Linked DNA regions of Homo sapiens. The protein of the gene in region 2 purifies or fractionates together with the protein of the main gene of each other region. This does not show direct contact. Each region holds a gene or a part of one and is shown on either strand. Other genes may lie near its edges. The genes, in order: FAM162A, SLC7A14, RMDN3 and GOLM1.

Evidence for each region.
Region 1: the proteins of SLC7A14 (region 2) and FAM162A purify together in Homo sapiens (affinity purification with mass spectrometry; 2 studies listed by BioGRID and IntAct, with this or other methods). This does not show direct contact.
Region 3: the proteins of SLC7A14 (region 2) and RMDN3 purify together in Homo sapiens (affinity purification with mass spectrometry; 2 studies listed by BioGRID and IntAct, with this or other methods). This does not show direct contact.
Region 4: the proteins of SLC7A14 (region 2) and GOLM1 purify together in Homo sapiens (co-immunoprecipitation; 3 studies listed by BioGRID and IntAct, with this or other methods). This does not show direct contact.

The regions. Positions count from the first base shown.
Region 1 is NC_000003.12:122,380,171-122,387,188, forward strand, and holds the start of FAM162A (protein FAM162A), read left to right. Parts: upstream 1-4,011; 5' UTR 4,012-4,095; coding exon 4,096-4,129; intron 4,130-7,018. Other genes in the region: protein MIX23, read right to left, coding at 3,004-3,054. UniProt on the Homo sapiens protein: Proposed to be involved in regulation of apoptosis; the exact mechanism may differ between cell types/tissues.
Region 2 is NC_000003.12:170,478,069-170,485,094, reverse strand, and holds part of SLC7A14 (solute carrier family 7 member 14), read left to right. Parts: intron 1-1,572; coding exon 1,573-1,781; intron 1,782-3,928; coding exon 3,929-4,806; intron 4,807-7,026. UniProt on the Homo sapiens protein: Imports 4-aminobutanoate (GABA) into lysosomes. May act as a GABA sensor that regulates mTORC2-dependent INS signaling and gluconeogenesis. The transport mechanism and substrate selectivity remain to be elucidated.
Region 3 is NC_000015.10:40,745,240-40,752,265, reverse strand, and holds part of RMDN3 (regulator of microtubule dynamics protein 3), read left to right. Parts: intron 1-87; coding exon 88-280; intron 281-595; exon of another isoform or gene 596-696; coding exon 697-840; intron 841-4,531; exon of another isoform or gene 4,532-4,635; intron 4,636-7,006; coding exon 7,007-7,026.
Region 4 is NC_000009.12:86,089,539-86,096,564, reverse strand, and holds part of GOLM1 (Golgi membrane protein 1), read left to right. Parts: intron 1-7,026.

The DNA.
Region 1 (7,018 bases), about 48 Mb from region 2:
CTGTACTCCAAAGAATGATATGGAACTCCCTTAACCTTTCCTCTCCTCTCCCTTTGCCTGATGGTACCCAGAAGTAATGTCATTGGTACTTGACATCAAAGTCCCTTTTACATGATGCTCTTTTCAGACAGATCTGGTTCCTCAAACTCTATTTTTACATCAAAGCTCCCACGGTGCTTCCCCCAAACCAGAAACACAAACTTGTCTACAACTGCCAGAGTCCTCTAACACCCAGCATCCCCAGGACAGGAATAGAAAGCAGCCCTGTAAGCATAAAAGAAACCATCATTGATGCTAGAAAATAACCTATTTAGTACCTAATTACAATGTGATTCAAAAATCACTTATGTGTCAATGAATATTCCTAATAGAAATACTAATATTTAAACATGCATGTTGAAGTGCTGGGGGGTGGGTATGATGAAAGAGACACGTATGAGGACAATAATAAGAGACATGACAAGAGGCACTTTGGGATTGGATTTTAAAAGGTCTTATATGCCATGTTAAGAAGTTTATATCTAGTCATATGAACCCAAAACTCAAAAGCATAGCTTAGATTATAAAATTCAGAATATAATAGCATATGCCACAGTATTATGGAGATTAGATTGAAGGGGGAATATAGTAGAGAAAAAAAGTGCCAGAAGATAGGAAGGCCTGTTGCAAAGCTAGTTTCAAAAATGATACGGGCCTAAACAAAGCCACTGGCAGTAGTGATGAATCTTCCTAAAGCACCTCTTCGATCATCTCACCCCTCTGCCCAAAAAGGACTCCCTAACTCACACGTGACACACAAGGCTTTCCACAAATCTGGTTGCAATCTTGTGTAATCCCAATGTGCCCCTGTATGAATAATGTGTTCTAGCAATACTGATTTTCTATTTCCTTTAAATACATAAAACTTTTTTGTCTATTATCCTATTGCCTCTGCCTAGAATACCCCTAGTCCCTGCCTGCCTAAGGCCCAACTCTCTAAATTCTTTCAGCATTTTATTCTTTTTTCTTCCCAATATTTTCTACATTTTATAGCCCTACTTAGATTACGTTCCTTGTTTTATACTCCATCCACTGGGTTTCGCAAGTGCCAGGAGACTAGTAGGTATCTGTTACGGGTTGAATTGTGTGTCCCCAAAATTCATGAATCCCTAATCCCCAACATGACTGTATCTGGAGATAGGGCCTTGAGGTATGTAATAAAGGTTAAACAGAGGTCATAAGGGTGGGCCCTAATCCGATAGAACTGATGTCCCTATAAGAAGAGGAAGAGATAGGCTGGGCGCCATGGCTCACGCCTGTAATCCCAGCATTTCGGAAGGCTGAAAGGGGTGCGGATCACCTGAGGTCTGGAGTTTGGAACCAGCCTGGTCAACATGGTGAAACCCCATCTCTACTAAAAATACAAAAATTAACCGGGCACGGTGGTAGGCGCCTATAATCCCAGCTACTCAGGAGGAGAATCGCTTGAACTCGGGAGGTGGAGGTTGGAGTGAGCCAAGATTGTGCCACTGCACTCCAGCCTGGGGGATAGAGCGAGACTCTGTCTCAAAAAAAAAATAAAAAAAAAAAAAAAAAGAAGAGGAGGAAGAGATAGCAGAGATCCTTCTCCTTCCAGGTGCAGGCACAGAGAAGAGATAGTGACATAGAGAAGACATGGTGAGAAAGCAGCCATTTACAAGCCAGGAAGAGAAGCCTTACTATAACTAATTCTGATGGCACTCTTTTTCCCCCCTTAAATCAAACTGTATAGCCTAGAAACTGATGGCAGCTTAATCTTGGACTTCTAGTCTCCAGAACTGTGAAAAAATAAATCTCTATTGTTTAAGCCACCTAGTCTGTGGTATTTTGTTATGGCAGCCCTAGCGGACTAATACAGTATCTAATAAATTCTTGAATGCATGCTAAAATGGGATTCTAGGCACTCGATTTTAAACACTCTTTTCTGGATTTTATTTCAATTTGGAAATAGGATATTTTACAGAAGTACTAAATCTAATTTTTATAATGAAAAAATAAGAGTTGCAAAAATTTTAAACACTTTAGGCCGGGCGTGGTGACTCACGCCTGTAATCCCAACACTTTGGGAGGACGAGGCAAGAGGATTATTTGGTGAGACACTCTCGCTACAAAATTTCTTTTAAAAAATTACCCGGGCGTGGTGACACGTGCCTGTAGTCCTAGCTACAGGGAGGCTGAGGCAGTATTCAAGAATACCACTACCTTCAAACCGTTCAAAGTACAAAGCTTACTACAGATAGGTCAATTTTTCAGTATCTTGGGTTAGTTAATAATGCAATACATATTTAAGATCATGATTTTGGAATTCAACTTTGTAACTAAACAGAAGCACATTTATGACTGAATTGGAACAGATAACTTTAATGGCAACTTGGTCAAAACCAGATCCCTATTCTTGCATTCAGGTGTTAATAATTAGCCCTAGGTCTCTGATATTTGAACATAAAAAGGCAAAACCTCTAAATATTACATCTTCTCTAATGGGCAATGACACTAGAGCAGGTACTATAATTAATCCTCCCTCCAAGCTTCCATACGTCCTGTCCCACAAAAATAGTAAATTGCACCAAGTATGTTTTATCAACTAAATAGCTCTTCTGCACCTTCTTCTCTCCCACAAAAACTCTACTTACAAAAGTAGGAGAGGAATGGCAGAAGCTGGAAACTGAGTTCAGGGAACTGCTACAAGATTGTTACAATCCTTATCCACGCATCCCGAGCTTTACCACAGCAGATTACCCAGAGCTTCCCAGACAAGGCCGGAGAGCCGCGGAGAGAACTATGACCCCCCTCCTCCCTCCTCCTACAGAGCAGCCTCGCTCCCTAAGGCCAAACCCGCGCCCCCCATGACCTCCAATGGCTCGAGAAAAGAGCTTTGAATTGCCCGCTTTTTCCAAAGCTGGTTCATACTCCCTCGCAAAGCAGGGAATAGGGTCTGGGGACAAAAGGAGGCACATGCCTGCCACATGAGGAAAACCCCATCACCTGGAACTCGGCGAACTCCTCACAGTTCACACCGCCACTGGGCGCCGCCATATTGGACAAACACGAGGACCCCGCTGCAGGCCAATCACCGCGGAGCAAAGGTGACCGCGGAGTCGCCTGACAAAAAATATAGTACGAGGGGAATCCTTAGGAAAGCTGAGTGCAAGGCTTGAGTTCAACGTGGTCCGCATCCACCTCGGAACCTGTCACCCTGCTGTCCCAACCCTTTTAACATGTCCTCCTGGAACTGGGCCAGATACATGGATCAAAGATTGTCAGACCTTGAAGGGACTGTTTACTCCAATCCCATCTTTTCACAAAAGGGAAACAATTTCCTTGTGGTTCCCCTACCAGGTCGTTGAAGGAAATCTAGGCAAGTGAGGCCTTTCTAATACCTCTCACTCCAGTGCCTAACCTCCTCCCCGGACCCTGGAGCAGGGGGGTCTTTGTTAAGAATTTGGGACCACTAAGAAACGTCAAGAAAAAACGGCATTTCTGGCAGTGTGGGTGGGTATGAGTAAAGTGTTTAGGATGGAGATGATCAAATGTTTTTAGAAAATAGGTAAATAGAAAACAAATTGAAAACATACATGTTAATTTCTCAGATTAGCCTGAGGGATGCTCCAACAAGAGATAGGGCCACTGAGCAGAGTCCAATTATGTGTTTTCTGATAAAAGCATATGTTCATTGAAAACACTGGAAGAGCGGCATACTGGAATACTGGTTTATCTGGTGTATTTCGGGAGTTTACAGATCACGAAAGTTGCACATTTCCTTTCTATTTCACACAGGTACTCCCATGGGTACATATCCGCTAGGGCAAGGGCCCACGGCGCCACACTCCACAGGACCATCTCCGAGGCTGGCTCAGGATGCGGCGCCAGGGGCACTAGGCTGGCGCCGCGGGTCTCCAGCGCGTGGCGCACGTCCTACACGCCCCGCACTGGCGCAGGCCTGTACACCGCGTCGCGCACGCCCCGCCCCCCGGCGCCGCCTGCGTCCTTCCCACTCCAACGCTGGGTGACATTGAGCTCACCAGCGCCACCGTCCCCGGCGAAGTTCTGCGCTGGTCGGCGGAGTAGCAAGTGGCCATGGGGAGCCTCAGCGGTCTGCGCCTGGCAGCAGGTGAGACGCCGGTCGGGATATGGGAGGTAGGGGAGCTGGCCCGGCCGCTGCGGGTGGGGGAATCCTGAAGCCTTCCTGGGCCCCGGAGTGGCTCCATTCCATGACGCACTTTCTCGGTTCCTCAGAATCCTACCTACTTAGTAGCCATGTGGGAGGGAACTAGGTGAGCAGCTGCTGATAGGCATTGGAGACTGCCCGTGAATTACCCTCATCTCCATCCACCCAGCTCCCACCAACTTAACTGCCCACGCGCCTACCCTTCTCCCCACCCCCGTCCTCAGCCTCCCCTGAGCTCAGTCTGTAAAGCACCTACTATCCCTAGACCTCCCCTTTACCCATGCATTCAGCTTTCCACCCTAACCTCCCCTATCTATTGCTCTCCTTGAGTCTTCCCTCTTCCCCCTGCTCCTTCCTCTCTGGAGTTTATCCCAGAAAACCTCCAGTCTGAAGTTTCCCCACTCATTAAATGTCTGATTAGGCCAAGGATTTAGGTCTTAGAGATTAATAATAATTGTTTTCTTAAAATGGAGGATACATTACTTTTAAACACTTATACAATTAATTGATTCGAATTTCTTGGAGGAAGTGTGTAATTGAAGGATCTGCAGTTTGTTTTGGTGGTAGACATTTGTGTGATGACTATTTTGGACTTAGGTAATGAAAGCTTAATTCTTTTTTTTTGGGAGAACCAGCAGAGCCTTGGCATAGTAGGGGTTGAGAAATCAGAGGGCTTGCATTTTGACTCTTTTCTGGGTACCAGAGATCTTTTGTTCAATGGCACACACTACATTATTAAAAAGTTGTTAATTAAATTTTTAAAGGAAAAATAGCCCCAAACTTGGCTATTCAAATAATATAAATATATATTGTAATGTAAATGAAGTAATGCAAAAAAAAAGAGTGAATGTTGCATAGTTTCACAAGTTTGATACATAACCTTCCCCACCTCAAGATTATCCTTTACACAGCTTATCTAGTGTTCCGGTAGAGAATGGACTGGAAAACATGTCTCAAACTAGAGAGTATTATTATATTTACTTCCTTTAAAAGCAAACACTTCTTCCACTAAAATCCTCAATACTATGATTTCATTGATTTTGTCAGTTTTGTTGAACTAATTCACCTAAAATATCTTCTGTACATCCTATTAACATTATGAAGCTTTTCAACAAGGCAAGTGAAAGGATCATTGCTCTGTAAAAAAGTTAAAATGGACTGCATGAAAAGAACTTTGACATCTTGGAACTACTTTGACATCTTTGAACTAATACTGAGTATATTGTAAGTAGTTCATCTTCTTGCTTTGAGAATATATTTATGCATCTTGCATAAATATATTTTTGCATCTCTGCAAACTTCTGATGTGTAAAAACTTCACTATTGACCACTTAACCAAAGCAGAATTCCTTGAGTGATTTAAGAACAATTTATTTTACTTCAGATATAAAATTTTTAATAGCACACTAAGGATGTTATATGAGCAGCTCTCTCCATATGATCTTCCACGAATGTCTGATGCTTTGTGAGCAACTCCGCAACAACCTACTACCTTTCACCCACTTCATAGCTAAATACTTTCATATACATTATTTTGTTGGATGGATTTCTCATAGCAGCCCTCTCAGGTAAGTCTTATTCCTCCCACACTTTATAAATGAAGAAACATAGGTCAGAGATGACTTGTCCAGGATCTCTTTGCCAAAAAATGTTAGAGCCAGGAGAGGGTACCCTTTAATTCTGGAATTTTTGTGCTTTTTGCTGTTGTTCAAGCTGTTCATTCAGGGGCTGTGCGTGTGTGAATTTGTCATGACTAATTGGATCTCATTAATCTGAAATGGAAGAGTCATGAAATGCAGATTTAGTTCTGAAATGAAAGTACACCTTCATGTGCAAATGGCTTTTCAAGAAAGAAGACTGCTTTAATAAGCAGCCTTAGCCAAAGGAATGAAAGATCAAATAGAAATGTAGGCTCAATGTGGTGGCTCACACCTGCTATCCCAGCACTTTGGGAGGCTGATACTGGAGGATTGCTTGAGACCAGGAGTTTGAGACCAGCCTGGCTAACTTAGCAAGACCCTGTCTCTACAAAAAAAACTTTTAAAAATTAGCTGGGCATGGTGGCTCAAACCCATAGTCTCAGCTACTCAGGAGGCTGAGGCAAGAGGATCACTTGAGCCCAGAAGTTTGAGGCTGCATTGAGCTATAATACGATCATGCTACCACATTCCAATCTGGACAACAGAGTGAGACCCTGTCTAAAAAAAAAAAAAAAAAAGAAAAGAAGCATAATCTAGGCATACCTTACTTATCCAGAATATTTGGAATAAGATTCTCTAGGTAAGTGAAATTTCAGATGATCAAAACTTAACCTTATAAATGATGGACCTTTACTTTTGTTTCTGTTGGAAATCTTTGGTATACTCCCTTAGCAAACAATATAGCAAACATAATGTAGGCTTTTATGAGCTCGAATTTGTTGTTTTGTAGATGTAGTTGTAGATACAGATCAGGGTTGTTAACTTGTGGTACTGGACACCTCCACATTTGAGAGGTCCTGTGAACTTCTCAAATTTTTATGATTGTATACCATTTTTGAGAGAGAGGGTCCATATTTTATATCTGCTACTCAGAGCAGTTCATGCTCTTTAAGTTAAAAAGCACTGATACAGATGATTAGGAACTAAATGGCCATTTACCCACACTACGCTGGGTTTCATAAGGGTAAACACTGGCTCTGTTTTGTTTTTACTCAGTCCTTACCACTTATTGGTGTTCAGTTCATAGTAGACAGGCAATACATATTTTTTGGATGAAGGATGCTAGGAAATATCTTGGAACATGCTGCAAATGTAAGGTGAGTTTTCACACCTGTTTTCTCCTGAAAGAATA
Region 2 (7,026 bases):
CGGGGCAGAAGGAACAGCAAGGACACTCTGCATTTCCCCTTCTACTCCTCCTTCATTCCCGCCCTTCCTCCAGGAGTGGGCCCTTATCACACACAATAAAGTCAATCATCACAGTGCCCTCCTTAGAATAGCACTTTATAGACCACAGAGTACTTCTATGATCCACCAACTTTTTACCCATCCTGATCTAACTCAGGAGACTCCCTGAAGCTGGAGGAGGCTCAATCCCACTCTCCTCCAGCCCACCCTGCCCCATCCCCAGAGGAAATATTGCAAGTGGTTATGTTACTAGGAAACATTCTCTTTCATACTGCACAGGCCTTAAACACGCCCTAGGAGCTGTTTGGTCTTGTACTGGTCAGCAGGCAGCCCCTCCCCCACCATGAGAAGAACAAGGTTGCTGGGCTTTGCTAGGACATCCTGTCCTCCTTGGTGGCCCTTGGCTCCACTGGAGGATCTTGGCTCCAGAGGAATAGGCAAAGAAATGGTCTACATGTGACCACCCTCTTTCCTTCAGGCTTTGAATCCCTTCTTGATGTCAATTTGGCCTTCATAGGCCTGGGGGGCCCCCCATATCTGGCCATATGACTGGTGGCTCCATTGCCTATGGCCAATTCTGAAGGCAGGGATGTTAGGCAGATCAATAATATGCGAGGGGAGTAGGTCCTGGGAGCCCCCAGTTAAGTGCTTATCACCTCCCCGATGCACATGCATGCCAGTGGCTTTGTCCTGTCCATACCCTGATTTCTCCCCGTAGGCAGAGTGTTGAAGGAGGGGTGGTAGGGTAGAGGGAATAGCAAAGACATTCTGCTCTCTATTTCCTCTTCTGCTCCTCCCTCGCATCTCCCTCTTCTCTGGGGGTGGACCCTTATAGCACACACAGTAAATGATTCCTGATTAAGCAAAGCCATAGTTGTCTGACAGCCATATAATCAGTAGGACTTGATTCTGTCCTGATGCCATCATTTGTCTGTTGGCCTGCCTGGATCCTAGGACTAAGCTAGAGAAAGGAAATAGAAATATGAGTCCTTATCTGGGTCCCAACAGTTAATAGGCTATAGACCTCTTAAGCACTTATCTTTGGAGATTTTATCTCTGGTGTTTCACAGTGAGAGGGAGTACGGATAAAACCCTGTAGGACCAGAAAGCAGAAGAGAAATGAGAGTCTTGTCCACGTGGGCAGGGTGCTCATGGTCCCTGCCAGGCCCTGGTTGCAGGGCATTGGCTGCAGCTCCTTCCTTCCAGAAATATCTGCTCTCCACTGAACTGTTAGCATAGCTCTGCTCATGGGGCTGAAATACCTGCAGACTTACTCCTCAGATATCAAAGGACCAGAGAGATAGAGAGTTTCTGGCCCAGTCCACTAAATTCACATGTGGGGAAATAATATTGAGCAAGGCCTAGAGGCCAGATGACTGGTCTACAGTAAAGGCACATGCCAGCAAGTGAATGGATCCAAACTGCCATGCAAGCCTCTGCCTCCAGGGGCAGGGCTCTTTCCTCTCCCGTGGGGCCTCTATCCATGCTGTTCTTCCCCTGTACCTCCAGCCCTGTCTTCTCTTGTTTTAACAGGTGAGCGTGATCTTAACTCTGATGGTGCCATATTATACCATTGACACGGAATCCCCACTCATGGAGATGTTTGTGGCTCATGGGTTCTATGCTGCCAAATTCGTAGTGGCCATTGGGTCGGTTGCAGGACTGACAGTCAGCTTGCTGGGGTCCCTCTTCCCGATGCCGAGGGTCATTTATGCCATGGCTGGTGACGGGCTCCTTTTCAGGTAAGGGCTATGCTCCATGAAATTTATCCTGCTCTGCCACGTCTGTCCAGGGAGAATGTCTACCCACTGTCAGACTGACTGTGATTTTGACATCAGTGCCTTTCACATGGACTGTGGACCTTGTTATGTATCCTGAAGAAAAGTCTGAGTAACAGAGCTCAGGCCCTGAAGCAGCCCCTAGTTTAACTCTGCAGTCCCTTAATCCAGCACAAGCTGATGTGTGTCCCCCCACTGTCCTCCCTCCTGTCGACATTGCGTGCTCCTTTGTGAAGATGATGGGGCCAAACTGCTGTACTGGGTGGCCTCCAGAAGGAAGAACCATCCTAGGGACATCTTAGGCCTGCCCTCACATTGAGGCCTGGTAACTGCCCCACTCTCCACAGCCCCTCTGAAAATGAAAAAAAAAAAAAGTCAACAAAGAGTAGATAAGACCCTCTGAACAGATCCTAACAATACCTGCAACACCAGCTGCCATTTATTGAACATTTGTGTGTCCTGGGTGCTGTGTATACAGTATCCCATTTAGTCCTCACAGTAACTCTATTTTGCATATGAAGTCTACTAGGACTCAGAGAGGTGAAACAAAATTGCCACAAATCCCTCAGCTACTGAGTGGCAGGTCAGGATTTGATCCCAGAACATCCGACTCCAAAAATCAGACTTTTAACCACACCAATATATTGGCAGTTCTTGCCCCCTACATTGGCCATGAAGTGGCCCATCTGCCCATGGTACAAAGGGGATGTGGCCCCAGCCCTTTGTTTCCAGCATGAGGGGCCTGCTGAGAAGGCATTCTTCAAGTGCACAAAGCAAGGAGTAAACCGTGGAGGCCAAGGAGCTCTCAGGTGTGCAGAGGGGGCCGGTTCAGGGACTTTGTCTCTGCAGACATCATCTTCTGACTCATTTCCCCTGCATACTCTCTGAAGCCATCACCAGATCAGAGCTGCTGTGATTAGGTTGCCGAACAGATCAAGAGGGGCCTAGGGTGATGGAGGCGTGGGAACTTCACACATCCAAAAGATTTTTCTGCTGTCAAAGAAACTAACAGGAAAGATACTGGGGCTTCAAACACATTTACAGTCTTGTGTGAACCATAAAAATAAGGGACCAGGAGGAGAGGGGAGAGGAGAGGGAGCCTATTGCACATGCCATTCAGTCGCTCTTCTTGGTCTCTTCTTCAGTCAGTAACTAGCTGGACATAAATCTGTATCTACGAGCACAGTTTCTCAATTACTGTGCTATTTTGCCAACTAAACCCATGAACTTTTGTTATAGGTGGTGTCTCAAGCTTTGGCATAAATCAGAATCCTCTGGAGGTCTTTTAAAGCAGTTTGCTAGGCCTCACCCTACTATGATTCTGGTATAGTAGTTATTGGGTGAAACCTGAGAATATACATTTCTAACAAGCTCCAAGAGAATGCTAAGATGCTAGTTCACAGGTCAGGAGGACCCCCAAGCAGGTCCATGACTTCCTCCAACCATCACTTTTTCACGCAGAGCCTGGGCTTCAATCTAGGTTTCTGAAAGACAGACCTCCTAGGTTCAATCAACCCTTCCCATTACATAATGATTAGGAACTTTACTAAAGAACTTTGCCTTAAAATCAAAGAACTAGTCTAGGCACAGTGGCTCACACCTATAATCCCAACACTCTGGGAGGCTGAGGTGGGTGAATCATGAGGTCAGGAGTTCGAGACCAGCCTGGTCAACATGGTGAAACTCTGTCTCTACTAAAAATACAAAAATTAGCCGGGTGTAGTGGTGCATGCCTGTAATCCCAGCTACTCGGGAGGCTGAGGCAGGAGAATCACTTGAACCCAGGAGGTGGAGGTTGCAGTGAGCTGAGATCACGCCACTGCACTCCAGCCTGGGGGACAGAGTAAGCAGAGTGAGACACCATCTCACCAAAAAAAAAAAAAAAAAAGAAATCAAAGATTTAAAGTGAATTCTTTTTTAATTATATACCAAATCCTGGGGTAGGAATAGCAGCTGGATTTAAAGTAGTGAATGCAGAAGTAAATTGGTGGAGCAGGACCAGGAGGAGTTAATCACACCAGCCTATTGATAGTTCTAGCTCCCTATGTTGGCTGCACTGGAATCGGTCACTGTAGCTCACCATTAACCCTCTGCTTGCCCGGCCCCTCCAGGTTCCTGGCTCACGTCAGCTCCTACACAGAGACACCAGTGGTGGCCTGCATCGTGTCGGGGTTCCTGGCAGCGCTCCTCGCACTGTTGGTCAGCTTGAGAGACCTGATAGAGATGATGTCTATCGGCACGCTCCTGGCCTACACCTTGGTCTCTGTCTGTGTCTTGCTCCTTCGATACCAACCTGAGAGTGACATTGATGGTTTTGTCAAGTTCTTGTCTGAGGAGCACACCAAGAAGAAGGAGGGCATTCTGGCTGACTGTGAGAAGGAAGCTTGTTCTCCTGTGAGTGAGGGGGATGAGTTTTCTGGCCCAGCCACCAACACATGTGGGGCCAAGAACTTACCATCCTTGGGAGACAATGAGATGCTCATAGGGAAATCAGACAAGTCAACCTACAACGTCAACCACCCCAATTACGGCACCGTGGACATGACCACAGGCATAGAAGCTGATGAATCCGAAAATATTTATCTCATCAAGTTAAAGAAGCTGATTGGGCCTCATTATTACACCATGAGAATCCGGCTGGGCCTTCCAGGCAAAATGGACCGGCCCACAGCAGCGACGGGGCACACGGTGACCATCTGCGTGCTCCTGCTCTTCATCCTCATGTTCATCTTCTGCTCCTTCATCATCTTTGGTTCTGACTACATCTCAGAGCAGAGCTGGTGGGCCATCCTTCTGGTTGTTCTGATGGTGCTGCTGATCAGCACCCTGGTGTTTGTGATCCTGCAGCAGCCAGAGAACCCCAAGAAGCTGCCCTACATGGCCCCTTGCCTCCCCTTTGTGCCTGCCTTTGCCATGCTGGTGAACATCTATCTCATGCTAAAGCTCTCCACCATCACATGGATCCGGTTTGCGGTCTGGTGCTTTGTGGGTAAGCAACTTCCTTTGGAGCCTTAAGAGTTCCCTTTTAAGGTCTTAAGCATGCTTATCCCAAAATTACCTCCTAGCTGGACTAGGCAACTCCGTTCCCAGAGAAATCTGGCTGGTTCTATGGACCCTTGTGTTCCGCCTAAGAGTCAATAAAGCCAGTTGTCCCCTTTCTGCCTGTAATGTTCTTAGTCATTGGTTCTGGAAAAATGATGTTGATTAATCCATCGCTTTACTGAATTACTGAAAGTTCTTTCTATATCAGGATAATTAATACCAGAAAAAGTCCACTTAAAGTGAATCCACATTTTTAAGGTGACAAAAATAGCATAGTATAATTGGGGTCAGGGCATTTGGATGGAATTTTATCATAGAAACTAAGAATTGTAAAATGAAAAACTATCTTAGATTTCACAAAATTAAATTAAAATAGCAATTATGCTCTCATTTTTAAATGAACAAGGTGTGAATTAAGTGTGGATTTTTTGGCATAATTTTTCTGACAAAATTGAATCATGGCATCATTTAACATCTCTCACTTCATACTGACTTTTGTAAAATATTCAAAAGTTTTTCATATTTCCCAAGGTCCTTTCTTCATTCATTGACATTCCAATCATTCACTTGGGAAGTACCCATCATGCCACCATCCTTACTGATTTTCTCTCTCCTGCTGGTAATAACTAATATGACTCTGTTAGGTCCTCAATTGTCTACAATTTTGGGTGTGAATTCAAATTGTTCTCTAAACTCACTTTCACGGACTTCAAGAAGTCCTGTACCTTCTCTAAGATTTCTAATTTTACTTTGTGATCCATTTCTATTGTATTTGCAGTACTTGCTTATCATCTAGGACAATCTCTGATGTTCATGAGGTGGCTGGGGATTGATGCTAGTAAGAACTTGAGAAGTGTAATGGAAGACTCATTTTAAAGTTCCTTAGTCACTATTTGTATGTCCTCTGAACAACTTGGTAACCCTGGGGTCTCTGATAACAAATTCTTAGCTAAAGAGGATCTTTAGAAGCTCTGGGGAATAGAAGAGTAAACCCTGCCTAAAGGAGAGGCAAGACAAACACACGAGTCACTTAGCCCAAGAGAGGCCAAAGAGACTCTTTTTGTTGTTGTTGTTGTTGTTGTTATTTGTTTGTTTTGTTTTGTTTGTTGTTGTTGAGATGGAGTCTTGCTGTGTCGCCCAGGCTGGAGTGCAGTGGCTTGATCATGGCCCACTGCAACCTCCGCCAACCAGGTTCAAGCAATTCTCCTGCCTCAGCCTCCTGAGTAGCTGATATTACAGGTGAGTGCCACCATGCCCTGCTAATTTTTGTGTTTTTAGTAGAGATAGGGTTTCACCATGTTGGCCAGGCTGTTCTCGAACTCTCAACCTCATGATCTGCCCACCTCAGCCTCCCAAAGTGCTGGGATTACAGGCATGAGCCACTGTGCCCAGCCCACAGAGACTCTTAGTGATGAGTGGCAGTGCATCCACTCCTAGAGATCAGGAATACACTTGTTCAACATGTGTCCTCCGTGTCTGGAGCAGGGTGCCCGCAGTATGTGCTCAAAAATACTTCTTAAATTATTATAAAGTACTCTTCAAAGGGGAAAAAGGAAAACTTCCAGTCAGAATTGCCAGAAAAAACTTGGAGGGGGTAGAATACAAAGTGGCCCTATAAGTTAAGATATAGATAGAAAGAAGTGGGGGAAAAAGTAGCAACCAATGGAAAGGGCATATGTCTTCCCCAGAGGCCTGACTCCTTGCTTCTGAAGGCTGCTCTATGGCTTCCTGTAAGCATTTTGTCCCAATTTTTCACTATTCTAAGTCCCCCTGGTTAGACTTCAGGAGGATTTCTTGAGAGGACCCCACTGACTCATCAAGATTTTAACCAATTTTTATAACACATTTACAATCTCTTGGCTGGGCATAGTGGCTCACGTCTATAATCCCAGCACTTTGGGAGGCCGAGGAGGGCAGATCACCTGAGTTTAGGAGTTCGAGACTAGCCTGGCCTACATGGCAAAACCCCATCTCTATAAAAAATGCAAAAATTAGCCAGGCGTGGTGGCAAGTGCCTGTAATCCCAGCTACTTGGGAGGATGAGACAGGAAAATTGCTTGAACCCAGGAAATGGAGGTTGCAGTGAGCTGAGATCACACCACTGCACTCTAGCCTGGGAGACAGAGCAAGACTCCATTTCAAAAAATTTTTTTAAAAAAATTAATAT
Region 3 (7,026 bases), on a different chromosome or scaffold from region 2:
AAGCAGGTATTCTTGAATTCTGGGTGTGAGATCTCTTCCCCACCATATTCCTGTGTGTCACTGGCTCCCATTCGTTTCCCCCTTCAGTGATGCTCCTGCGGGCTGTCCCAGGTGGGGCTGGAGATGCCTCAGTGCTGCCCAGCCTTCCACGGGAAGGACAGGAGAAGGTGCTGGACCGCCTGGACTTTGTGCTGACCAGCCTTGTGGCGCTGCGGCGGGAGGTGGAGGAGCTGAGAAGCAGCCTGCGAGGGCTTGCGGGGGAGATTGTTGGGGAGGTCCGGTGAGTAATGCGGCTTCTTCTCCTGCTTTATCCCTCCCCTGCAGCTTTTCAGCTGGGGTGTGTTCTGGCCTTCGCTGTCTGTCTCTAAAGAATAAACCAGTTCTATAGCTTCTAGCCTAATCTGGGTTGAAGCTGTACATTTGGTACCTCGCCTTGCACATGCTCCTTGCTGCTTCTGGACTCTCATGGTTGATCTGTTGTAGCAGCTGAAGCGCTCTGTTTGCCTAACCTAGTCTGTCTGTGCGGGCTGGGCCCAGGAAGCTGCCCTGCTTGCCCTCCTGAGGGTTAGAGACTTAGGATTTTCTCTGCTTTTAGCCCTTTAATGAGGAGCAGTAGTAAGAGGCACCCCATGGTGAGCAGAAAGACAAGCTGGATGGGACCTAATGGTACCCTTCGGGATGGGGCCTGCTTTCCAGATGCCACATGGAAGAGAACCAGAGAGTGGCTCGGCGGCGAAGGTTTCCGTTTGTCCGGGAGAGGAGTGACTCCACTGGCTCCAGCTCTGTCTACTTCACGGCCTCCTCGGGAGCCACGTTCACAGATGCTGAGAGTGAAGGGGGGTGAGTTGTCTCTCTTGGAGGCAGTTATGGCTACAGCCAGGTTGTGTTTTGTAAAAGTATTATCAATGGAAAATTCAAACCAAGCTGCTGCAAATGATTTTTGGAACAGGTAAGAGTATAATAAATACAGAAGAGTTGAAACAAAAAACCCATCCAATTTATGTCATTCAGACAAATGTAGATGTTAATAGCAGTTATTGCTTGCATCTGTTATCTTAGTTTATTACATAGTTATGATATATTATTTGGGCATTTTTCTGTGTTATCACAAGGACTTGATAAGCATTGTTTGACTTTGTTCCTTTCCTTGGGTGGCTGAGCTGGTATACGGAGATGTCTAAGCACGAAGCATGCTCCTCCCTGGGAGTCACCCTCTTCCCACAGGGGAGCCTTGCCTGTGATCCTTTGCATTTTTACAGGTGGGAGGTGGATGTCCTGAGTTCTCAGTGGCCCAGGAGGGCTGACGATAGGCCTTTCTGTGAGGCGGGGCAGCTGGCAGGAGTCTGGTGGACAGCCTCCTCCAAGTCTGGTCATGCTAAGGGTGTTTTGAGTTTAAACCACTAGCACCACTTTGAAACTCTGGTCCCAAGGATAGAGTGTGATGTCAGTAGCAGCATCTGACCCATCTGACCTTATCTGCTGCTAGCTCCAGTTATTCAGGTAGCCTGTGTGAGGCCTAGAGGCCGATTTCTCCTTGTCCAGCCTTTATTCTTCTTAAGGGAAAGACTGGTGTAGAGAACAGCCAAGTTTTATGCTGGATCAGAGGAATTAGCTATAAGCAGGTACATGGAAACTAGAAGTTAAAATCAGTCCAGGTGTGGTGGTGGCTCATGGGTAATCCCAGCACTTTGGGAGGCCGAGACAGGAGGATTGCTTGAGTTCAGGAGCTTGAGACCATCCTGGACAAGGCAGCAAGACCACGTCTCTACATAAAATAACTACCTGGGGGAGGCCAAGGTGGGCGGATCACCTGAGTTCAGGAGTTTGAGACCAGTCTGGCCAACATGTCGAAACCCTGTCTCTACTAAAAATACAAAAATTAGCCAGGTGTGGTGGTGCATGCCTGTAATCCCAGCTAATCGGGAGGCTGAGGCAGGAGAATTGCTGGAACCCAGGAGGCAGAGGTTTCAGTGAGCCGAGATTGCGCCACTGCACTCCAGCCTGTGAGACAGAGTGAGACTCCATCTCAAAGAAAAAAAAAAAAAAAAAAAAAAACGAGCTGGGCATGGTGGCATGGGTCGGTAGTCCCAGCTACTTGGGAGGCCGGGAGTTTGAGGATGCAGTGAGCCATAATTGTGCCACTGCACTCCAGCCTGGGTGACAGAGTGAGACCCTGCCTCAGAAAAATAAAATACAATGTAAATACTAGGTGATAGGAATTTTTCAGCTCCATTATAATCGTATGCACCCACTGATATGCGCAGTCCGTGGTTGACTGAAATGTCATTATCACCAACGCTGGATTTGATGAGTGCTCCGGGGTCTCCAGAAACCTGTGGAGTGGTGGTGAAGAGCTCTCTGCTCTTCCATGGGGGACTGCTGTTGCCTGGGTTGTCAGATCCCTGTTATCTGCATTCTCAAGGGCAAACAGAGGTGGCCCTTTTCTATTCAATTTACCTAAATGGCTCTGGGCCAAGAGATGCTTCCAGAAGTTGTGTTAAAGAGGGGGCAAAAATGAAATTAATATTTGATACATCTGAATTGAAGAGAGAGACCGAGGAAGTAGTTGATAGTGGGCACTGAGATGTAAAGAACATCTCTGCAACCCAAGGAAGCAGGCCACTTGGGTGGGGAATTGATGTTTGAACTCTGTAAGGAGGTTGAACAGAAGGAGAGGTCACAGCTCTGCCCAAAATCAAAGAAAGCTTGAGGCCCTTCACAACTGTTTTTGTTTTTGTTTTGTTTTGTTTTGAGACAGGGTCTCACTCTGTTGCCCAGGCTGGAGTTCCATGGTGCCATCACAGCACAGCAGCCTCAACCTCTTGGGCTCAAGTGGTGCTCCTGCCTCAGCCTTCTGAATAGCTGGGACTACAGGCATGTGCCACCATGCCCAGCCAATTCTATTTATTTTTTTTGTACAGATGGGGTCTCACTGTGTTGCCCAGCCTGTTCTTGAACTCTTGGCCTCAAGCAGTTCTCCCACATCAGCCTCCAAGTGCTGAGATTACAGGTATGAACCACCGCACCTGGTCCTCTTTGTGATGATTTAAAGAAGTTGTACTAGGCCAGGCGCGGTGGCTCAGGCCTGTAATCCCAGCACGTTGGGAGGCCAAGGCAGGTAGATCACCTGAGATCAGGAGTTCAAGACCAGATGGCCAACATGGTGAAACCTCGTCTCTACTAAAAATACAAAAATTAGCCAGGCATGTTGGCAGGCACCGGTAATCCCAGCTACCTAGGAGGCGGAGGCAGAAGAATCACTTGAACCCAGGAGGTGGAGGCTGTAGTGTGCCAAGATGGCACCACTGCACTCCAGCCTCGGTGATAGAGCAGTACTCTGTCTCAAAAAAAAAAAAAATTACTGAGGCTGGGGTGTGGAGGCTCATGCCTATAATCCCAGCACTTTGGGAGGCTGAGGTGGGCAGATCACTTGAGGTCAGGAGTTCGAGACCAGCCCGGCCAACATGGTGAAACCCTGTCTCTACTAAAAATAGAAAAATTAGCTGGGCGTGGTGGTGCATGCCTGTAATCCCAGCTATTCCGGAGGCTGAGGCAGGAGAATCACTTGAACCCAGGGGGTGGAGTTTGCTGTGAGCCGAGATTGCACCACTGCACTCCAGCCTGGGTGACAGAGAAAGACTCCATCCCAAAAAAATAAAGAAGTACAAACTTCTGGGGTCAGTGGGAGCCAGAGCAGTTAACCAGGGACACCTGGGGGTCCTTCACTGCTAGGGGTGCTCACTGGGACTCCCAAGGCCACAAGGAGCAGGCCAGGGCTGCCAGACACCTGTGATGGGGCAAGGGGAAGAGTGGATTTCTTAATTATAGCGCCTTCAGGCTGTGTCCCATGCCCAGTCCCGTGGCATGAGAGCAGGTGGTGGTGCAACACTGTGTGGTTGAGCCGGCTGTTCTCTAGGGCAGTGGCCGTGGTGAATGATTCTTTGTGCCATGGTCATTGCCATGTAGGTCAAGGGGGGAGCTCTAGGAGTCTACAAACTCTGAAATGGCTTTGAACATGTGTGTCTTGGGGCAAGGAGAGCTGCTTTGAGGGATGAAGGGCTGAGATTTGATGGGCTGCTTGATTTCACTGAAAGCTGTATTCCTTCCTTCTTCCAAATAACAACTTTGAGGTCTCAGGAGATTGAGGGTGGCAGAGGCAGAATCACTGTGCAGCTCTGTGAGCTTGTTCCCCGGGCATTGTACCAAACACAGCTTGAGTTCCCTCTGTCAGAACCCAACTTGCCCTAAAATACCAGCTCCTCCAGCAAGCCTTCCCAGGCATCTCAGCCAAGAGAAATTGCCTGCAGCCTCATCGTGAAGACTCCTTCTTGGGCATTTATGACCTCATTAAGTTGGGTCTTATCTCAAGGTCAGGGTCCATGTGCCTGGTTATCTTTGAAGGCCTCATACTCAGTCTCTAACATGGTTTAGGTTAAGAGAAACTTAATTGCCAGGAGGAGAGATGTGTGTAACTGAGTCCTTCATTACTGCTTAAGAGTAGAGTGGCAGTCTCTGCTCAGAGGGAGCCTTGGGTCTCTGGCCCACTGTGGGAACTCCTGTCCTCCGGAGTGCACAGGACCAAAGGGCCTTTTCAAAGGTCCCTGCTCGTCTCTGGCAGATCTCAAAAGCCTCAGGGTATGTTAAAAGGGTCACTCCTCTCTGGTAGATTTCTCCAAAGGCTGGCTGGGTTAGTCTGGGAGGTGGAAAGTGAGAGAGAATGGTGTAAATGTGGTAGCCCTTGGCATGTGATTAATCTCTTCTGAGGCCCCAGAAGCTGCCTCAGGCAGTAGGGTTTCAGATTGTTGAGGGTTCCTTAAAGTGGGGCTGAGATGCAATTAAAGTCTACTTTCTATGCCAGCTTCCCTGGAGCCTCCCTGCCTCACAGGGCTCTACCATCTTTCACTCTGTTTGTGGCAGCAAGGCTCCCTGACCTCTCTTCTTGGCTTTGTGAGCTGGGCCTTTAGGATCCAGAGGGATGGCAGCATCGCAGCTCAGGTCCCAGGGGATTCTGTGCTGATGCCTGGGCTCCAGCAGGGCTAGGTCCCTCCCTGGGAGTGCTGGAGGCAGAGAGACTCCTCTTTGGACTCCTGATTGGCTGAGGCAGCCCTCAACTCAGCAAGAAATAGGGTCTCCCCCTCCTTCTAGCAAAGGGAGATGATGCAATTCCAGCTTCCCGTTCCAGATAAACCATCTACCCATTTTGCATTTGGGCCTGGCTGGGCAGAGGAGACTCTGGTTTGATTTTTCTCAATCTGGCAGGTGCAGTTGGGAGTTTCATTCTCTAGGTTGCCTGTGGGTGGTCTCCCTCATCAGTACCCAGGTTGGTTACGAAATCTAATGACACTTATCCTTGTCCCTTTGATTTCTAAAGGTGTTTTTTTTTTTTTCTAATAACTAAAGGGGAAATCTACTTGGATAACCTCTTAAAAAACAAAGGTGCAGTTAGGAAAGGTTTTAAATACCTTACAAGTTCTTGTAGTAGATGTGTCTGGGGCCTCTTTTTTAGATGAGGCTGAAGCTCCTCTGTAAGGATGCAGTCAGCACGGACTGGGTACCAGGTCTGGCTGCTCACTTCCAGAGCCTTCAGAGCCTGCCACCTTGTGGTTTCTGGTTTTCTGGGCAGGACAGCACTTCTGCCCTGACATTAGGCTGTCAGTTGTTGACTTTATTTGTAGGTGGTGTGTCATCTCTCCTTCAGTCCTGTTTTGCTCCAGCCACAGGGAGCCTATTCTTTTTTTTTTTTTTTTTTGAGACGGAGTCTTGCTCTGTCGCCCAGGGTGGAGTGCAGTGGTGTGATCTCCGCTCACTGCAAGCTCTGCCTCCCGGGTTCACGCCCATTCTTCTGCCTCAGCCTCCCGAGTAGCTGGGACTACAGGCACCTGCCACCATGCCTGGCTAATTTTTTGTATTTTTTAGTAGAGACAGGGTTTCACCGTGTTAGCCAGGATGGTCTTGATCTCCTGACCTCCTGATCCGCCCGCCTCGGCCTCCCAAAGTGCTGGGATTACAGGCGTGAGCCACCGCCCCCAGCCTTGTGTTTGCTTCTGACCCCCAGAAGTCCTACCTTTTCCCCTGCTCAGTCCTTATCTATTTTAGGCATTTAGGGAAAACACCCTAATCAGCTGCTGGTGGCTGAGATCCAAGAGAAACTCAGCTTCCTCTTTAGTGGGTGCATCAGGGTTGGGGCTCCTTAGGAGCCACCTGGCATATGGCAGCCCCCCAAACACCTTTTCAGGGGGTAGTTTGCATTGTCTTCCCCTTCTTGCTTCTGGCTGCAAAGTGGTTCCTATCACCTCTCCTCACACCCTTAAGTTCTCAAGGTTACTATGGGCTACTCCTGTTGCGGTTTAGGTTTGGTTGTTGACTTGGGCCAGAGGTTGCGAGTTTGTGGATGTGTGTGTGGCTGCCCATGGCCTGAGGCTGCACCCACCCATGTTGGTTGTGGCAAGTGTCTCTGACTGATAAGGCAAAAACGAGCAGGGACTTCTCACATTTGCCTTAACTGTCACAGGGCCTCAGCTGGTTGTCTGCTCTTTCCTTCCTGGATCATTTTCCCAGCCCTTAGTTCCCATAGGAAACTTTCTCTCAAATAATGATTTCTGCTGGGCATGGTGGCTCATGCCTGTAATCCCAGCACTTTGGGAGGCCGAGGTGGGCGGATCACTTGAGGCCAGGGGTTTGAGACCAGTCTGGGCAACATGGCAAAACCCCGTCTCTACTAAAAATACAAAAAAATTAGGTGGGAGAATTGCTTGACCCCAGGAGGTGGAGGTTTGAGTGAGCCAAGATCGAACCACTGCACTCCAGTCTGGGTGACAGAGCGGGACCCTGTCTCAAAAAAAAAAAAAAAAAAGAAAAAAAGTCTGCCCTTAAGAGGTATGAATGATTGTGATTTGGTGCTTTGGACAATGCCATGTAGAGTGCTTCTTTGGGGGTGAGGGATAGACAGACCCTAGGGGCTCTGAGCTGAATAATCCTCTTGTTGTCCCTTACATTTCTCTGCCAGTTACACAACAGCCAATGCGG
Region 4 (7,026 bases), on a different chromosome or scaffold from region 2:
TGTTTGCATTTATTAGTGGAATAAACAGACCTCTGACTTGGTAGGTCTGGGGTCGGCCACAAAATTTGCATTTCTGACAAATTCCAAGGTAATGCTGATGCTGCTAATATGGGGACCACACTTTAAGGACCATTGAACTACAGCAGGAGTTGGCAACCTGTTTCTGAAAAGGACCAGATACTATTTTAGATGTTGCAGACCCTGTGGTCCCTGTCACAACTACTCAGCTCTGCTGTTATAGCCCAGTAGCCACAGATAATATGTAAATGAATGGGCATGGTTCTGTTCCAGTAAAACTTTATTTATGGATACAGAAGTTTTAGTTTCATGTAATTTTCATGTGTCATGAGATATCCTTTTATTTCCAAACCAAAAAAAAAAAAAAAACCTATCGAGCAGTTATCATGTGGTGTGTACTTTATTGCCGCTGTAATTTTTAATCCTCACAACAAAAGGTTTTACATATTTAAAGTCTCATATCACTGCATCCTAGAACATGGGGTCAGTAGTAAGCCTACTTCAATGGACTTTTACAAGGATTGAATAAGATACAGAGAGGGGGATTATACAACTCACCAAAATTCATGCAAATAGTAAGAAAGCTAGGATTAAAATTCCTTTTGGCCTGACCCACATCAGTACTCTTTTCCTAAGCCACACTGCCTCAACAGTACCGCTAAGGAAGCACTCAAAATAACAGGTAGCTAAACTGACATCTAATATCACTTCATGGCATCCAAATTCTCCAAGGAGCACTGAACCAGGAGTCACCTGCCAGGTCAGTCTCCATCCCTCTATCAGTAGGTCTGTGTGCGAGTTGGGGAACACTGCAAGTTTCAGCTGGTTCTCGGTTCTTCTTGGTTTTCAGCCCTGCTGGGCTCTTTTGGGTCTTTCCCACGCGCGCATAATCTTCCAGGCAGCCAGGAATATGTGGAGAATTTATCTCAGCCCTTTGAAGCACTCTGTCATGAAATATTATTCTTTTAACTTTCTTCAACCATTGAAAATGTAAAAACTGGCCAGGCACGTTGGCTCATGCCTGTAATCCCAGCACTTTGGGAGGCTGAGGTGGGCGGATCACTTCAAGTCAGGAGTTCGAGACCAACCTGGCCAACATGGTGAAACCCCATCTCTATTTTAAAAAAAAAAAAAAAGGGAAAATACAAAAATTAGCTGGGCGTGGTGGCATGTGCCTGTAATTCCAGCTACCTGGGAGGCTGAGACATTCGAATCACTTGAACCCAGGAGGCAGAGGTTACAGACAGCTGAGATTGCGCCACTGCACTCCAGCCTGGGTGACAAAGCAAGACTTCGTCTCAAAAAAAAAGAAAAAAAATGTAAAAACTATTCTTAATTTGTGGGCAGTGTACAAAAATAGATGGCTGGCAGGATTGGGCCCTTGGGCGGCAGTTTGTGACTCAAGGAAAAATTGAGCTCCTACTGAGATGTATTCTTTTTTCTTTTCTTTTCTTTTTCTTTTTTTTTTTTTTAGACGGGGTTTTTGCCCAGGCTGGAGAGCAATGGCACTATCTCGGCTCACCGAAAACTCCGCTTCCCAGGTTCTAGTGATTCTCCTGCGTCAGCCTCCCAACTATCTGGGATTACAGGCATGCACCACCACGCCCGGCTAATTTTGTATTTTTAGTAAAGACAGGGTTTCTCCATGTTGGTCAGGCTGGTCTTGAACTCCCGATCTCAGGTGATCCGCCTGCCTTGGCCTCCCAAAGTGCTGGGATTACAGGCATTAGCCACCGTGCCTGGCCCAAGATGTATTCTTTTTTAAATATTTTTTTGTAGAGACAGGGTCTCCCTGCATAACATTGCCCAATCTGGTCTCGAATTCCTGGGCTCAAGTGATCCTCCTGCCTCAGCCTACCAAAGTGCTGGGATTATAGACGTGAGCCATCGTGCTGGCCCCAGGATATATTCTTGACGGTGGTTCAACCTTTCTTCAGAAAATTTCAAAACAGGAAGAATTTGGTTCCCTAGTTCATTTTCACTCATCCACCTCGCTTTTTGGTGTTTCTACTACCTACCACTATACATTCATTTTAAAAGTTTTAATCTTTAGACACTGTCAGCTTCTAGCATTGGGGAAAAGATGGTGTTCATTTTGGGGAAGTGAGAGGAAGAGAGTCTGTGTATTTCCTAGTAAGTTTTTAAAGCAATTTAAGCAGAACACAGTGACCTTGGTCATTTAATCCCAATGGGTTAGAGGCAGAGTTGACAAACTGTCTAAATGGTCAGATGGTAAATGTTTAATCCTCACAATACCCTATGGGCAGAGTTGGTCTGTGAGTCTCTGTCTCTGTCTCAACTTTTCAGTTCTACTTTGTAGCCAGAAAGCAGCCATAGGCAGTATTTATGGCAGTGTATAGTAAAACTTTAAAAAAAAAAAAACCAGGCCCGGATATGGCCTGTGGGCCATAGTTTGCTCACCCCTGGCTTAGAGACATTCTTGGGACAGGGTGGAATATTTCCAGGCCATCAGAAAACTTGGTGACTGATTCTTTCCCGGACTCCAGGCTGCGCCGGGGTGTGCTCAGGTCTGTTTGCTCATTGCAGTGACTTCTGAACTTCCTGCTGAGCCGCTGGGGCCATTCCTCTGAGAAGGAGTTAGAGGTGTGGCTCCACCACTGTTTGGAGAAGCCCAGTTTCTGCACTGGTTGATGTTGGTCAAACATGCTAATCTGACGCGATTGCTCCTATATATTTGCTTTTCTGATTTAAAGCCCTATATGAAAATAAGGAAATGTTAAACATAATATTTGACTAGGAGGGTCAAGGGGCTCGTGTATTTGGCATGTTGTCCATTTTCATATGCCTTTTCTTTCTTTTAAAAAAAGTAATTAGAAGGCTTTGTTAAATTACAAACATTTTGTCTTAAAAGCAAATAATAATTTTAACCAATAGGTTGAATTTTTAAATTAAGCCAGTAGGTAAGAATATGCAGTTTTTTCCTTTTCTGATTTATCAAGTGATTTTTTTTTTTTTTTGACAGAAATCTTGCTCTGTCGCCCAGGCTGGCATGCAGTGACGCAATCTCAACTCACTGCAACCTCCATCTCCTGGGTTCAAGCAATTCTCATGCCTTAGCCTCCCAAGTAGCTGGAATTACAGGTGTGTGCCACCACACCCAGATAATTTTGGGGTTTTTTTGTTGTTGTTTCTTTTTTTTTTTTTTTTTTTGAGGCAGAATCTCGCTCTGTCACTCAGGCTAGAGTGAGTGGCGCAATCTTGGCTCACAGCAACCTCTGCCTCCCAAGTTCAAGCGATTCTCCTGCCTCAGCCTCCCAAGTAGCTGGGATTACAGGCACACACCACCATGCCCAGCTAATTGTATTTTTAGTAGAGACAGGGTTTTGATATGTTGGCCAGGCTGGCCTCAAATTCCTGACCTCAGGTGATCGTCTGCCTTGGCCTCCCAAAGTGCTGGGATTATACACATGAGCCACTGTGTACACCCAGCCTATCAAGTGATTTTTAATGTGAAAACACACCACTTGTTTTAATTTTGGGAAAGCCTGGAGCCTCACAGAGTTTAGCTGATTTAAGTTAATCATTTTCAGTATGTTGGAAGCTTATAACCAAGTATGAGACAAACATATTCTGAAGCTTAAATGAAAATGAATATTAAATTAATACCTCTGTTTGATGCAGTATATCACTCACCCACTTCCATCTCATCCGCAATCCAAATAAATTCTAAGGTGGGAGAAGGGAGAGTGTCTGATGTATTTGACCACCATAAACTCTGCCTGTGAGTTCCTGCCACCAGCCTTCATCAGTCTTGATCATTTCTCGCCAGTGTGTGTCCCTTATCCTTCAGCAGCAAGGGTTTCTACAGTCCTGGAAGCCTGTGAGGAGGCACCTTGCAGGCCTGAAGCCTCATTGTGTTACTTCCTTTCCTTGTGTCACTATTTACCTGGGCAGCCCTGCTCCCATTGGGAGCCCAGGGCTCTCCTAAGAGTGCTGTCTAGACAGCTGCTCACCTTCCTGGCCAGCCAAGCACTGGGTGACAGTGAGGGGCTTCCAGGATTGTATGACTTCCAGGACTGTTTGAGGCTTGGCTTCCTCAAACCTTTTTCATAATATGATCCTGGTCTGGGATGTCCACGGCCTCAGTGGCAACTGTAGGTCAGCCCCAGGTAATGGCAGGTACTGCTATTTTAGTTGGTGGCAGAGTCAGGAGAAGGAAAGAGGAGGACTGGTTGCTATAAAGTAGAATGGTTATGGAAGGAAAACATGCATCACTGTTTCCTCATAAAATGGAAAAAAGATTGAATCTAGAAATGATTTGTTGTTCATCTTTCCATCCCTAATAGTTGTCAACATTTGTTGAGCAATTACTATGTGCCAAATGTAGCTCTAAGCGCTTCTCACTCAACTCACTGAATCCTCTTAAAAACCTTGTGAGCAGGACAGTGATGCACAGACAGGTCCTGTGTCCCCTGAGTGGTAGAGCAAGGGTCAGACATGGTTGTGGGGTTCCAGTCTTGGAGTTCCTGAGTGGTGGAGCCAGTGTCAGACATGGCTGTGAGGCTCCAGTCTGTGGGGTTCCTGAGTGGTGGAGCCAGGATTCAGATATGGCAATGGGATTCCAGTCTGTGCTCTTAATACCACCCTGAGCTGCCTGATGTGAATACAGCACCTGACTCATGGTAGCTGCTCAATAAATTTTTTATTGGCTGTTTAAAGAAAAGAGAATATTAAATGGTTATCTGTACACTTCCCTTGAAGTGAGAATGGAGTTTATTTTCTGCTTTCAAATTTATAATATACCCCACCCACTGACTTACCTCTACTAGAATAACAAAAGGCCTTGCAAGGGTCACATCTAAAAGTATTTTGTCAAGCCATGTGCGGCAGCATGTGCCTACTCGGAGACTGAGGTGTGAGGATTGCTTAGGTCCAGGAGTTCAAGGCTGCAGTGAGCCATGATTGTACCACTGCACTCCAGCCTGGGCGACAAGATTCCATCTCTTTAAGAAAAAGTATATTGTTAGAAAATTTAGTATATAACAAAGATAGTTGTTCAAAGCAGTAGGTAAAAATAGATTATTCAGTAGAGGGCCCTGGCAGAACTGGCTTGTCACTACAGGAAAAAAAAAAGCTGCATTCTTTGTATTTCCTTACTTCTGCATTCTTTGTATTTCCTTACTCCTTACATCAAAAAGGAGTTTTAAATGGATGAACAATTTAAATGTAAATATGAAACTGTACATTGGAAAAAAATGTGGGTAAGTTGTTTATAAACTTAGAATAGGAAATGCCCTTCTAAATATAACAACAATCGAGAAGTAATAAAGGATTGACAAGATTAGGTTATTTAAAACAACAACAGAGTGGCTGGTAAGATGGCCAAATAGCAACAGCTCTGGTCCGCAGCTCCCAGCGAGATCAACACAGAAGACAGGTGATTTCTGCATTTCCAACTGAGGTACCTGGCTCATCTCACTGGGACTGGTTAGACGGTGGATGCAGCCCACAGAGGGTGAGCAGAAGCAGGGTGGGGCATCGCCTCATCTAGGAAGTGCAAGGGGTTGGGGAACTCCTCCCCTAGCCAAGGGAAACTATGAGGGACTGTGCCATGAGGGACAGTGCACTCTGGCCCAGATACTACGCTTTTCCCATGCTCTTCGCAACCCACAGACCAGGAGATACCCTCAGGTGCCTACACCACCAGGGCCCTGGGTTTCAAGCACAAAACTGGGCGGCCATTTGGGCAGACACTGAGCTAGCTGCAGGAGTTTTTTTTTTTTTTTTTTTTTTTTTTTTGGTACCCCAGTGGCACTTGGAACGCCAGCGAGACAGAACTGTTCACTCCCCTGGAAAGGAGGCTGAAGCCAGGGAGCCAAGTGGTCTAACTCATTGGATTCCACCCCAATGGAGCCCAGCAAGCTAAGAAACACTGGCTTGAAATTCTTGCTGCCAGCACAGCAGTCTGAAGTTGCCCCGGGATGCTCGAGCTTGGTAGAGGGGAGGGGCATCCGCCATTGCTGAGGCTGGAGTAGGTGGTTTTCCTCTCACAGTGTAAAGAAAGCTGCCAGTTCGAACTGGGTAGAGCCCACTGCAGCTCGGCAAAGCCACTGTGGCCAGACTGCCTCTCTAGATTCCTCCTCTCTGAGCAGGGCATCTCTGAAAGAAAGGCAGCAGCCCCAGTCTTACAGATAAAACTCCCAGCTCCCTGGGACAGAGCACCTGGGGGAAGGGGTAGCTGTGGGCACAGCTTCAGCAGACTTAAATGTTCCTGCCTGCCAGCTCTGAAGAGAGCAGCAGATCTCCCAGCATAACACTCAAAGTCTGCTAGGGGACAGACTGCCTCTTCAAGTGGGTCCCTGACCCCTGTGCCTCCTGACTGGAAGACACCTCCTAGCAGGGGTTGACAGCTCACCTCATACAGGAGAGCTCCGGCTGGCATCTAGTGGGTGCCCCTCTGCGACAAAGCTTCCAGAGGAAGGAACAGGCAGCAATCTTTGCTTTTCTGATGCCTCCACTGGTGATACCCAGGCAGTGTCTGGAGTGGACCTCCAGCAAACTCCAGCAGACCTGCAGCAGAGGGGCCTGACAGTGAGAAGGGAAACTAACAGAAAGGAATAGCATCAACAAAAAGGACATCCACACAGAAACCCCATCTGAAGTTCACCAATATCAAAGACCAAAGGTAGATACATCCACAAAGATGAGGAAAAACCTGCACAAAAAGGCTGAAAATTCCAAAAACCAGAATGCCTCTTCTCCTCCAAAGGATCACACCTCCTCGCCAGCAAGGGAACAAAACTGGACAGAGAATGAGTTTGATGAACTGACAGAAGTAGGCTTCAGAAGGTGGGTAATAAACTCCTCCGAGCTAAAGGAGCATGTTCTAACCCAATGCAAGGAAGCTAAGAACCTTGAAAAAAGTTTAGAGGAATTGCTAACTAGAATAACCAGTTTAGAGAAGAACATAAATGACCTGATGGAGCTGAAAAACACAGCACGAGAACTTCGTGAAGCATATGCAAGTATCAATAGCCAAATCGGTCA